Regions from separate parts of the Homo sapiens genome. Here region 2 is linked to region 1. Evidence: fine-mapped expression QTL. A gene starts in region 1. The other region holds a variant in brackets. All regions are shown on one strand. Distances are between the middles of the regions. Region 1 holds the start of IQANK1 (IQ motif and ankyrin repeat containing 1). Region 2 holds the start of CCDC166 (coiled-coil domain containing 166).

Region 1 (5,357 bases):
ACTGCCTGGGAGACTGTGGGTAGGTCACTGCACCTCTCTGGCCTACCTCTACTGCACAACACAGCTGAGGGTCCACATGACACCACGCCTAGCCCAAGGTGAGCGCAGCAAACAGGGCTGTGACTACCCTCCTCCTGGAATGGCAACCTTAAGCCCCACACATAGTCCCGGGCCACACCTCCTCCCCATCCTCAGGGTTTCACAATTGGGCTCCCACAGCCCATTCTATGACCGCCCAGTCCTGGAACACTGATCCCTAGACTCCGTCCCTGTCTCCCAGCACCCCCTCCTTCCCTTGGCCTACCTTTGACCTCTTTCTTGTCACTGTCCCTCTCAGATAAAACCTCCCTGGGCCACAGCCCCTTGGTGCCCACAGGGCCCTGCAGGGCCTGCACTCCACATCGCCCAAATCTGGCTCTCCACTTGCTCAGAGTCCTGTCCCCACCAGCCCCCATCCAGGGCAGCAGGGACCTTTCCAGGTCCTGGGCTCGCCACCACCATCCATGCTTGGCTGCCCCACAGCCCACTCTGTTCTCCAAAGGGTCCCTGCGGGGGCCTGGCCTCTCCAGAAAGGTGTCAGATGGGGAGCGCCCAGGGCCCACGCACACAGGGTCACTGAGCTACCTGGGTACCTCTCCCTGGAAGGAGAGCCCTAGGGACTGCTCAGTCCATCCCACTGCTCCTCGGGTTGGGGAGGGAGGCAGGACACCTGTCCCCGCCTAGCACACAGGTTCCTGAATGTTGGCCCTGGCTAGGAAGGTGCCCAGAGGAGCGTGCCCCTGGGCGCTGACAGGATGGATGCCGGCCAGCTGGACTACATGGGTGCTAGCCGGAGCCACTTGGCTGAGAATGTTGGGGTCAGGAGGCAGCCGTCCTGCCTGGTGCCCCTGGGGGTGACATGGAGTTGAGACATGGGAAATACCTGGTGCCACTCAACAGCCCTAGATGCCAACCGGCTTGGGAGAAGCTGTCCCAACATTTCTTTGTTGGGGCACCGTCCTCATGGTTGACATATGGGGCTGGTTAGGGCACACCGCTCTGGTTGTGCCAGGGGCAGATCGAGGCCAACCACATGGGGGTGAGGTGTAGGCCTGTCTGGCTGGGCCGAGGAGCCCACTCACCATTGCCAGCCTGTCTGTAGGGGCGGTGTCTGACCATACAGGGCAGGGGGAACAACCCTGCTGATGTTGTTTGAGGGTACTTCCCGACACTGGGGGGACACTCTAGAAAGGACCCCCACTGTCCCTTTGGATTTCAGTGTCCAGGCTCCAGGCTGTGTGTAATGGGGGCAGGGACCATCCAGACAGTGGAAGCCCCCGTGGCCAGGAGCCCTCCCAGCAGACATGCCTCGTCCTCACAGGGTGATGCCCAGACCTCCAACTGCTTCATTCCTCACGTCGTCTCCTTTCATGGGTACGTGTCTCCTGGGCTATGGACGGGGCTGCAGCCACTCCCGAGCCCAAGATGGAGCACCCCAGTGGCCTGCATGCCCACACATTTGCCTACCAAACGTCTGCCCAAGGGAGGGAGGGCGCGGAACCCACCCATGGGCAATGACTCAGCACGAATCCACTCTTCTGCTTGCTGACCCCTGACCTCTGACTCGAAGTCAGGGCCCTCAGCTGGCCTTCAAGGACCCCATCCTCTCCACCCTGGCAGGAAGTGGGGTTCCTGAGTATCTGGAAGGAGGACCCCATGGAAGGATCTGGAGTTCCTACACAAAGTGGGGTGAACCTGTGCCAAGTTCCGATGGGCGCAGGAGGGCGCGGAGGCTCTAGGCGGCGGAAAGGTGGGGTGCGGAGGACGGGGCTCACAGACCGGAAGTCGCTCAGTGATAACTTGCGGAGTGGGCACCCCAGCCCCCAACGGGGTCAGTGCACCCTACGAGCTCGCGGCTGCGGCCGCTGGGTGCCCTATCCGCCCACCCCAGCCCAGGAACGTGGGCGCGAGGGGCAGCACTCCCATCACTCGCCCTGCTCGCCACGCGGGGATCCAGGCCGCACCCTGGCCACCCCAGTCCACGGCGGCCCGGGCGGATGTCCCCAGGGAAGGGTCCAGGCCGTGCCCAGCACCCAGACTCCAGCTAGGCCGCGAGGGCGGGAGCGAGTCGGGACGGCCGGGCAGGCTCGACCCGGATCCCGGGCCCCTTCCCCCTCGGCTCTTTTCGGGCCGGCGTCGTGCGGGGGCGCTCGCGTCCATATCCGCACAGCGGCGCCCCCTGTCCGAGCAGCCCCGCCACCCCGGCCCCGCGCACGCGGCCGCGCTCCACTCCCACCGCCCCTCTCTGGGTCGCGCGGCCCCGGCCCAGGTGTGGGCGCAAGGGTAGCCCAAGTGGGACCGCGCCAAGGGGCGCCCGCCCCCCGCCTCGCCCCGCCCCGCTCGGGCCGGGGGAGGGGGGCCCTACCTGGCCAGGTGCGCGGGGTCTCGGCACAGGGGCAGCAGGAGCCGACCGCCGCCCAGCGGCCTCGCGGTCCGGTCGGTCCGGCAGCCACTCCCTGCCGCGGCCCGCCCGGCCTGATTCACGCGCCCGCCCCCGCCCCGCCCGTCGCTCCTGCCTCCTGCCTGCCCGGGCAGCACCTGGGGGCGGGGCAGCCCCACCCGCGGCGCGCCCGCATTCCTGCGCCCCGCGCCCGCCGCCAGCCCCAGCCCGCGCCCCCGGCCCGCGCCCCGACCCGCCCGTGCCCTGCGGCCGCGCGCCCGGAGACCCCGGCCCAGCGCCGCCGGAGACCGTGAGGCCCGCACTTCAAAGACCCCGACCCCCGGGAGCCCAACTGTTGACCCAAGGCTCAAAGTTCCCAGCCTGACCCCTGACCCTCGCCCCGGAAGTCGGGGTGACTCGGAAGTTCCGGCTCAGTCGCTAGGAAACGAGCGAGCCCGACGCCAGGGGCGGAGCTCTGGCCTCCTCGCCGAGTTGGGGGAGGCAGGTGCGACAGGTGAGGACGGTGGGGCGGCGTCGAGCCCCGGGCGGGGCCGGGTCTGGGAGCCCCGAGAGCACAGGGGATCCCCTCACCACACACCGGTCTCCCACCGCACCAGCGCCCCACACGTAGACGAGGACCCCGCCCACACAGAGGACCCCCAGACCCCAACCCCCACCACACACACTGATGCCCACAAGTACCTGGGGTCCCCCATCTTTCTCCCTCACCCCCTCACACCGATGCCCACACTTGTAGGGGACTCTGCCGCAGTGACCCCCCCATGCACATGCGGACCCCGAATGACCTGTGCCTCATGTACACCAACCCCCAAGCACAGGAGACTCCTCAGGAAGACAGAAGCCACAAGCACACCGAGTCCTGCCCATGCCAGTCACCCACGAACACGCTGACATCCGCACACCTAGGGAACCCCACCTGCATATGAGATTTCTCAGACACCAACCCCACACACAAACAGGGGATGCCATATTCACACTGACTCTGAGAGCACAGGGGACCTCCCTCACATACGGAACCCTGTGTACACACAGGGACTCTGCAAAAACCAAGCCCCAACGGACAAGGGACCCAGTGTGCACACCAAGCCTCATACCAGACGCCCCCCCATGTACACAGCAACCCCCACACACCACCCCGAGCTGCCCCTGGGTGCTCCAGTCCCCCAGGTCCCCCTCAGGCCCTCACTTAGGGCCCCTCCCCCTCTTAGGCCCTGCCCTACACTGGATCATCTGTCCAAACCACCACCCCTCGCCCCTGCCACTCCCACCCCAAGGACTGGCCCTGCCTCAACCCTTTCTGATGGTCATCAGTCGCCTTTCTCTTTGTTCCTCTTGCCATGTGATCCTATTTTCTGTTTTCAGGGTCAGTCCCAGTTTCATTTGTTCTTTCCCCAAACACTCAGTGCCACCCCACTGGTACCAGCATGCTGGAAACATGGGTGGGGGGTCAGACCAGTGCCCAGGCAACTGTGCTGCAGCGGGTGAGGGGCATGGGGCACCGGGGAGGACCCGGACAGGCTGGGGCAGGCAGGAGGAGCCTCCCAGGGAAATGAACTTGGGGGTCAGCTGTGTGGACTAGGGAGAGGGGTGTTGCTCCAGGGCCTGACACCACCATCTGCCAGAGCCGGGACCACATAAGGTCTGAGGGTGTGGAGGGGTGAGTGCCTTGGGTGGGCTGGGGAGCAGGCTCAGGGGTGGGCTGGCTTCCCAGGGCAGTGGAGAGGCATGGAGGCTTCAGCAGAGAGGGCCATGCTCATGATTACGGTGAGAACAAAGACCGGCCCACTGGCAACCCAGCAGCTTGGGGCAGGGAGAAGAGTGCTAGACTCCAGATCCTGCGCCCGGCAGGATGGGCTGAGCCTGGGGCGGAGGGGCAGGCAAGCCACGGCCAGGGGGACGGGAGGTGGCCAAGTGCTCTTGCCAGGCATCCCGGCTCAAGCTTCTGGGCACACACCCGGGGCGGGCAGGCAGACAGGACACCAGCTGGGAAGCCTCAGGGGAGCCCATGTTCCTGCTGTCATCCACTCAGGCGCCCATGGTGTGCCCTGTTCCCCACTGCCACTGCCCCTGCCCTCTGCCACTCTGAGCACCCTCTCCCTGGTCCTTCCCTACCCACCCCCCAGGAGAATGGACAGTAAGAAGGGGAGACCCAAAGCTGCAGCTGGGAAGTGGCAGACGCTCCACCCTGGGCCCAAGACAAGAGCTGCTGCTGGTAAGTGCACCCTCTGACCTCCAGAGCACTGTCACCCAGACACTGACCTGTGAGACCTTCTATGTAGCCACCGAGAGACACCCCCTCTGAGGAGAGCCCTTCTTCCAAGAGTGGCTTTTAGGGGACCTCTGAGTTGGGATTAGGTGTGATTGACTGAGGGTTCAGAGCCCATTCATTCATCTCAGACCTTGAGCCTGAATCTATTTTTTTTTTTTTTTTTGAGACGGAGTCTCGCTCTTGTCACCCAGTCGAGTGCAATGGCGCAATCCCTCCTCACTGCAACCTCCGCCTCCTGGGTCCAAGTGAGTCTTGTGCTTCAGCCTCCCGAGTAGCTGGGATTATGGACGTGCGCCACCACGCCCTGCTGATTTTTGTATTTTTGTTTTAGTAGAGACGGGGTTTCGCCACATTGACCAGGCTGGTCTTGAATTCCTGACCTCAGGTGATCCGCCCGCCTCGGCCTCTCAAAGTGCTGGGATTACAGGCTTGAGCCACATGCCCGGCCAAGCCTGAATCTTATACCCCTGGGGTTGGGGTGGGGGCCTAGGGGTAGCACTCAGAGAAGCCCAGCTTTGGAACACATGGAGGTGGGAAGGGGGCAGGAGCCAGTGGGAGGCGCCTAGATGGCCAAAAATGGGTTTTGAAACAGGAGGGTTTGAGTCCAAGTTGGGGATTCTCAGTCTAAGCATGTGTTCTCTGACTCTC
Region 2 (5,357 bases), 25 kb before region 1:
CACGCGGGTGTCAGAGCCGCCTGGGGGCCACGCCTTTATTAACCATTGCATTATCCCCGTAAGCGCCCTGCGCGCCTGACTCGCCCACACTAGGGCCTCCTGGGCCTCACTCTCTGCAGGTTCAGGCTCTACCCGGGGAGGCTTCTGCCGCAGCTTCAGCGTTCACGCTGTCCTCCGACTGTGGGGGGAGAAGAGCCGGATCCCGATCCCGGGACAGGCCAGAGAGAAGCTTGGGGCCAGACTTCGTGGAGCGGAGAGTGTCCTGTGAGGACACCCTCGGTGAGGACCCCGAAGAGATCCCAGAGCCCTCGAGTGACTGCACCAGCGACAGGGCCCGGGAGCCTGCGCGCGAAGCGGTCAGGGATGGCATCCGGGATCCCACCTTTGAAGTGGCCAGCGATGGGACCCTGGAGTCCATGCTCGATAGCACCAACGAGGGGACCCGGGAAGCCTCGCGCGACGGGACCACGGACGAGGCCCGGGGGGCCGCGCGCGACGGTACCACAGACGGGGTCTGGGAGGCCGCGCGCGACGGGCTTATGGGGGCGGCTAATGACCCGGGGCGCGAGGTGGGCTGGGAGAAGGCCGGCCGCTCCCAGAGCGGCGGGCCTCCGGGGCCCCTGCGCAGCCAGCCGTGCACACGCGCCAGGTCCCGCGTGTCCTCGTGCTCGCGGTGCAGTTGCTCGCGCTGTTCCAGCAGCTGGCGCCGCGTGTGGTGCAGCAGCTGGGTCCGGCGGAGCAGCAGCAGCAGCTCCTGCCGCAGGCGTCCGTTGTCCGCTTTGATGGCCTGCGTGTGCGCCACAAGCGCGCGCACCGCCTCCCGCTCCGCGCGCCGCGCCAGTGACTGCACGCGCTGACGCGCCTCGCGCTCGAAGGCCGCCTTGTCCTCCAGGAAGCGCCGCTTCACGCGGTGGAGCAGCTGCGTGTGCTCCACGCGCATATGCAGCAGCTCGCGCTCCAGCGCCCGGATCCGGGCCAGCTGCTCCAGCTGCAGCACCTGCGGCGGGGGCGCCGTCAGCTCACCCCCACCCCGCCCCCGGCCCGGCCACCAGCCCCGCCCCGCCTCACCCCGGCCGCGGGCGGGCTCACTGGCCTTGTAGGGCTGCAGCTCTTGCACCTGCTGTGCCATCTGTGCCGCGCGCGCCTCCATCTCCAACAGCTGCGCGCGCACCCCGTCCTCGCGCCCGTGGTAGAGCGAGGCCAGTTCCGCCCGCTGCCAGTGGATCTGCGCTAGGTCCACGCGGTTCTGCTCGTCCAGCCGGACGATGGCTTTGGCGCAGCGCTGGGCGCGCGCGCTCACGTAGCTGGCGTAGAGCCGGTTCTCCTCGCGCAGGCGCAGCGCCTCGCGGTCCAGGAAGGCGTTCTCTCGCAGCACCTGGTCAACGCTCTCCTCGCAGGTGTCCAGCTGCTCCGAGAGCAGCGCGTGTTCGCGTTGCAGGTACTGCGCGCGCTCCGATAGCGGCTGCTCGGCACCCGCGGCCGCCGCACCACCTGGCTGGCTCCCTGCGCTCGGCCCGCGCTTTTTCTTGGGCGCCATGGGTTGGTGCCTGGACCACCAGGACTGGTGAGGGCAGCGACCCCGGCCCCTTCCCCAATTTAGCCCTTCCTCTTACCTGGCCTAAATATTCTAGGCGCCAGGCCCAGAGGTGGGACGCGCCTCGGGGTCACGAGGCTTTTGGGGAGGCAGATCGGGGCTTTGGGTCGCGGGTCAGGGCAGCTTTGCCAACCTTCACTCGTGGGCTCCCGCTGGACCTTCGCTGTCCGTCTGGGTGCGCCTAACATTAGTAATGTTGCTGCTCGGCGGGCACGGTCTCTATGGAGACAGAACTTACTCGTCCTCTCCCACCCCCACCCCGTTACTCTGGCGATGGCCGACTCCTTCATTCCGCACAACTCTCTCATCTTGAGTCGCCCGTGACTGCTTGTGAATGTGCCCCCAGAGATAGGGCCTGAGCTGACAAAACTGGGCTTCAGACGGACTCCGGACGTGCTTCTGAATCTCACAGACCCCAGAAGCGCCCTTCGCCTTCGGTTCAGCAACGGGCCTTCTCCCGGGTTGTCCCCCACTTGAAGAGGAGCTTCACCACGTTCCCCCCCGTTTCCCGAGTGAAATCTCTGTGTTGTCAGGAGGGAGCGCTTCCCTGGAGCATTCGCCTCTTCAGGGACCCTTGCTTTCCCTGAGCATTTCGTGATTCCTTCGGTGAGGCCCCCGTGGGAATTGGGGTTCCTGAAGTATGGAGTCCACTGGGCGCCT[A/G]GAGAGCGTTTCTCTCTGAAGGTCCTAAGCGCGCGCGTGCGGCACCCGCTCAGCTCATCCGCGGCTCTGCAGCTGGGTAGCTTCCCTTCCCCGTGTGCCCGGATGGCTGGAGGACATAGGGATCCAAAAAGGGCTGGCTTTTTCTCCTTTTCTGTTGACTTTGTGGACACAACATCATTATTGAAACCATTCCTATAGACTTTATTAATCAGGGAAGAAGGGAGGCGAGAAAGGAAAACAAACCCAGCTTGCAGCTCGCTCAGCATTCATTGTGAGGTCAGCCTGCCTCCCAACTCCTTCCTCAGAGCTGTTTGGTGCCTGTGGCCCCAGAATCACACAGACCCTGTCACAAGATGAGAGGTCCCCATAACTGCTCTATAGGTAACAACTTAAACATAGTAAAATGTGAGGTTTTCTATTTGACAGGTCCTGCACACCCATGAAGCGACTGACCCAGCTGGTCTGAAGCACCCCACGAGGAGGTAATGTGCCAAAGAACGCAGGGTACACATCCTGAGGACTTCATCCCCTTTCCCCGGCCAATTGATGACCCCATTTTACAGTCCGTCACCCGCCACAATCCCTTTAAAAACCCCAGCCCAGAACTCAGGGAGATGGATTTGAAGGTCCCTCCCATCTCCTTGCTCGGTGTCCGGGGATCATGACACTTTCTCTGCTGCAAACTCTGCTGTCTTGATGTATTGGTCATTACTGCACAGCAGGCATCACCACCTGTTGGTCCTGTAAGATTTGCCTCCGTCTAGACCAGCGGTCCCCAGCTCCCGTTCTGTTAGATGCCTCAGGAACAGTGTGTCCAGCAGCCTTTGACACACAACTTAAATCGACCCCTATTTTGTGTTCTGTCATCATAGAGTTGAGTTTCTGCCCAGTTTGTCCACATTTGCTGGGATGTGGGCAGATTTGAGGATCTTTGTGAGGGACACAGTTTAGAAAACCACATTTGCACAGAGGTTTGTGGTGGAGGTCGTCTGGTGGCTCATGGACATGGCTGGGCTTGCTCTGATCAGCCAACCTGCCTGAAAGGTGCAGCAGAGCCTTTTAAAATTAAGAACACGATTGAGGCATTTTACTCCTTGTAAAAAAATGTATTTTAGGCTGGGCGCAGTGGCTCACACCTGTAATCCCAGCACTTTGGGAGGCTGAGGCAGGCAGATCACGTCAGGAGATCCAGACCATCCTGGCCAACATGATGAAACCCTGTCTCTACTAAAAATACAAAAAATTAGCCAGGCGTGGTGGCAGGTGCCTGTAGTCCCAGCTACTTGGGAGGCTGAGGCAGGAGAACGGCGTGAACCCGAGAGGCGGAGCTTGCAGTGAGCCGAGGTTGCGCCACTGCACTCCAGCCTGGGCGACAGAGCGAGACTCTGTCTCAAAAAAAAAAAAGTATTTTATAAGTAAAAATAAGAGGACACAAACTACCAAACAAAGCATTAACATTGTAAGAGGACATTGACTTATAAACTAAACTGCATCTGAATGTTGGCTTTAATATATGGGCTTTTAATATGAAAATGGTGCCTCTCCTGTCACAGAAAATTGGGAAAAGACCACATAGAATCATGAGAAAAACATGACCCTGCATCCCTGCATCCCTGCAGCAGGGGCTCAACTGCAGCAGGGACTCATCTGGGGTGGGGGGCAGGCTCATGTGTAGGGGTGCTTAATGCCCAGCGTTGCCTCTTCTGGTTCCTTGCCATGGCCACACCCCAGTGCTCTCCACCCTGCTACCCTCAGGCCTTGTGTGGGGTCACTGTCCCCATTTGACAGATTGAGAAACTGAGGCAGCAATAGGCAGAGGCCTGCTCACATGGGCCAGTCGGGTGCCCCACAGTCTCAGACCCTGTACCATCCCAGGCCACGCCACGTCCAGGGTCTGGACTGCTCTTTCCCCTACTCCCAGCCCCACTGCACCCGCGCATCTGCCACTGGAGGGTCTCGGTTGCTCTTGGCCTTTAAATCCCTGGTGAGGTAAGGTTTTTAAGTTTTAAGTCATCCCTGCCTGTGGGTTTCTTGATTTTTCTTTGCTTTAAATCTCACCAATGCCTCCTCACAGAGAGATCTGGGAGCCTCCTGCTCTCCTCTGTCGAGGCGTCCTGGAGGCTTTCTTCTTCCCAATTCTGCAATTCCCACTTCTGCAACCCCTGCCTCACCCACCAACTCCATGGAATAGTTGGGGGAGCCCCGACCGCAGCCCTAGTCTAGTGCGGACACTCCTGTCCCTGCAACCACACCCCCACCCCCCCAGGCCTCTGCCCAGCCCAGCGCTTTAACTTCTGCCCTGACCCGGGTCTGGCTGCCAGCTGCCCAGCTGTGCCTCTGACCAACAGGGATGAGGGGCAGGAGGAGACCTGGTTTCTGCTGGGGGGCCACGCTGCATGGGGCGATTCTTTGCGGGGAAGTGGGGAGAGCCTGGCCTTGGGGGCGGGCTCAGATGCCTCCCCAGGATCCCCCAGGCTTTTCTCTCATTGTGTTAGGAAGGCAGGCGGTCTCTGGGGTTCACCAGGTCCTGCACCATCCATGGGGACAGAACTCACTTCCTGTGACACACCTCCCACCCTCGGGGGTCTTCCCCCGAGGCCATGCAGGCCTCCTCAAGTGGCATGGTGGTCTTTGTCCCCCCAGGACCTGCAGTCTCACCCCCCTCAGATACAGGCTGGCAAACTGGAAAGGCCCTGGGAAGAGGGGCACTGTCTGCTCCCTGTGAGGCCCTCCCCGTCCACAGCTGGGCCAGCCTCCCTCCTTTCACCGCCCTCCCCACAGCCCCGAAGCCGGGCCAGCTTCCGTCCTCCCCACCACAGCTGGGCCAGCCTCCCTCGTTTCACCGCCTGCCCCACCGCCCCAAAGCCGGGCCAGCCTCCCTCCTCCCCACCACAGCTGGGCCAGCCTCCTCCGGACCCTCACCACAGCCAGGCCAGCCTCCCTTCCCACCCCTCCGCAGCCAGGCCAGCCTCCCTCCTGCCCCCCAGCCCCTTATGCTGGGCCCTGCTGGGGACCCTGAAGGCTGCAGCACAGGGCCACCTTGGGTCTGCTCCTGGGGCTTGTGGGCTCCCACAGGCTCCCCAGGTGGCCCCGCCCACCGTGC

The links. PIP is the estimated chance that this variant, and not a neighbour inherited with it, causes the effect.
Region 2: its variant is the best candidate, but not a certain one, in a credible set for the expression of IQANK1 in cerebellar hemisphere (GTEx, PIP 0.58).

Annotation. Positions count from the first base shown.
Region 1 is chr8:143,731,287-143,736,643 of GRCh38, forward strand. IQANK1 (IQ motif and ankyrin repeat containing 1) reads left to right here and starts at 2,853. Exons shown (of 14, transcript NM_001381874.1): 1 at 2,853-2,933; 2 at 4,564-4,652. The coding sequence starts at 4,568. FAM83H (family with sequence similarity 83 member H) reads right to left here and starts at 2,493. Exons shown (of 5, transcript NM_198488.5): 1 at 2,405-2,493. MIR4664 (microRNA 4664) reads right to left here and starts at 1,867; the gene lies at 1,797-1,867. RefSeq lists a silencer at 1,346-1,556 and an enhancer at 1,433-1,727.
Region 2 is chr8:143,706,573-143,711,929 of GRCh38, forward strand. CCDC166 (coiled-coil domain containing 166) reads right to left here and starts at 1,537. Exons shown (of 2, transcript NM_001162914.1): 1 at 1,094-1,537; 2 at 122-997. The coding sequence starts at 1,537. The coding sequence ends at 122. LOC101928160 (a long non-coding RNA gene) reads left to right here and starts at 1,479. Exons shown (of 6, transcript NR_134306.1): 1 at 1,479-1,564; 2 at 2,681-2,736; 3 at 4,176-4,243. The variant A/G (reference allele first, on the strand shown) is at 2,255.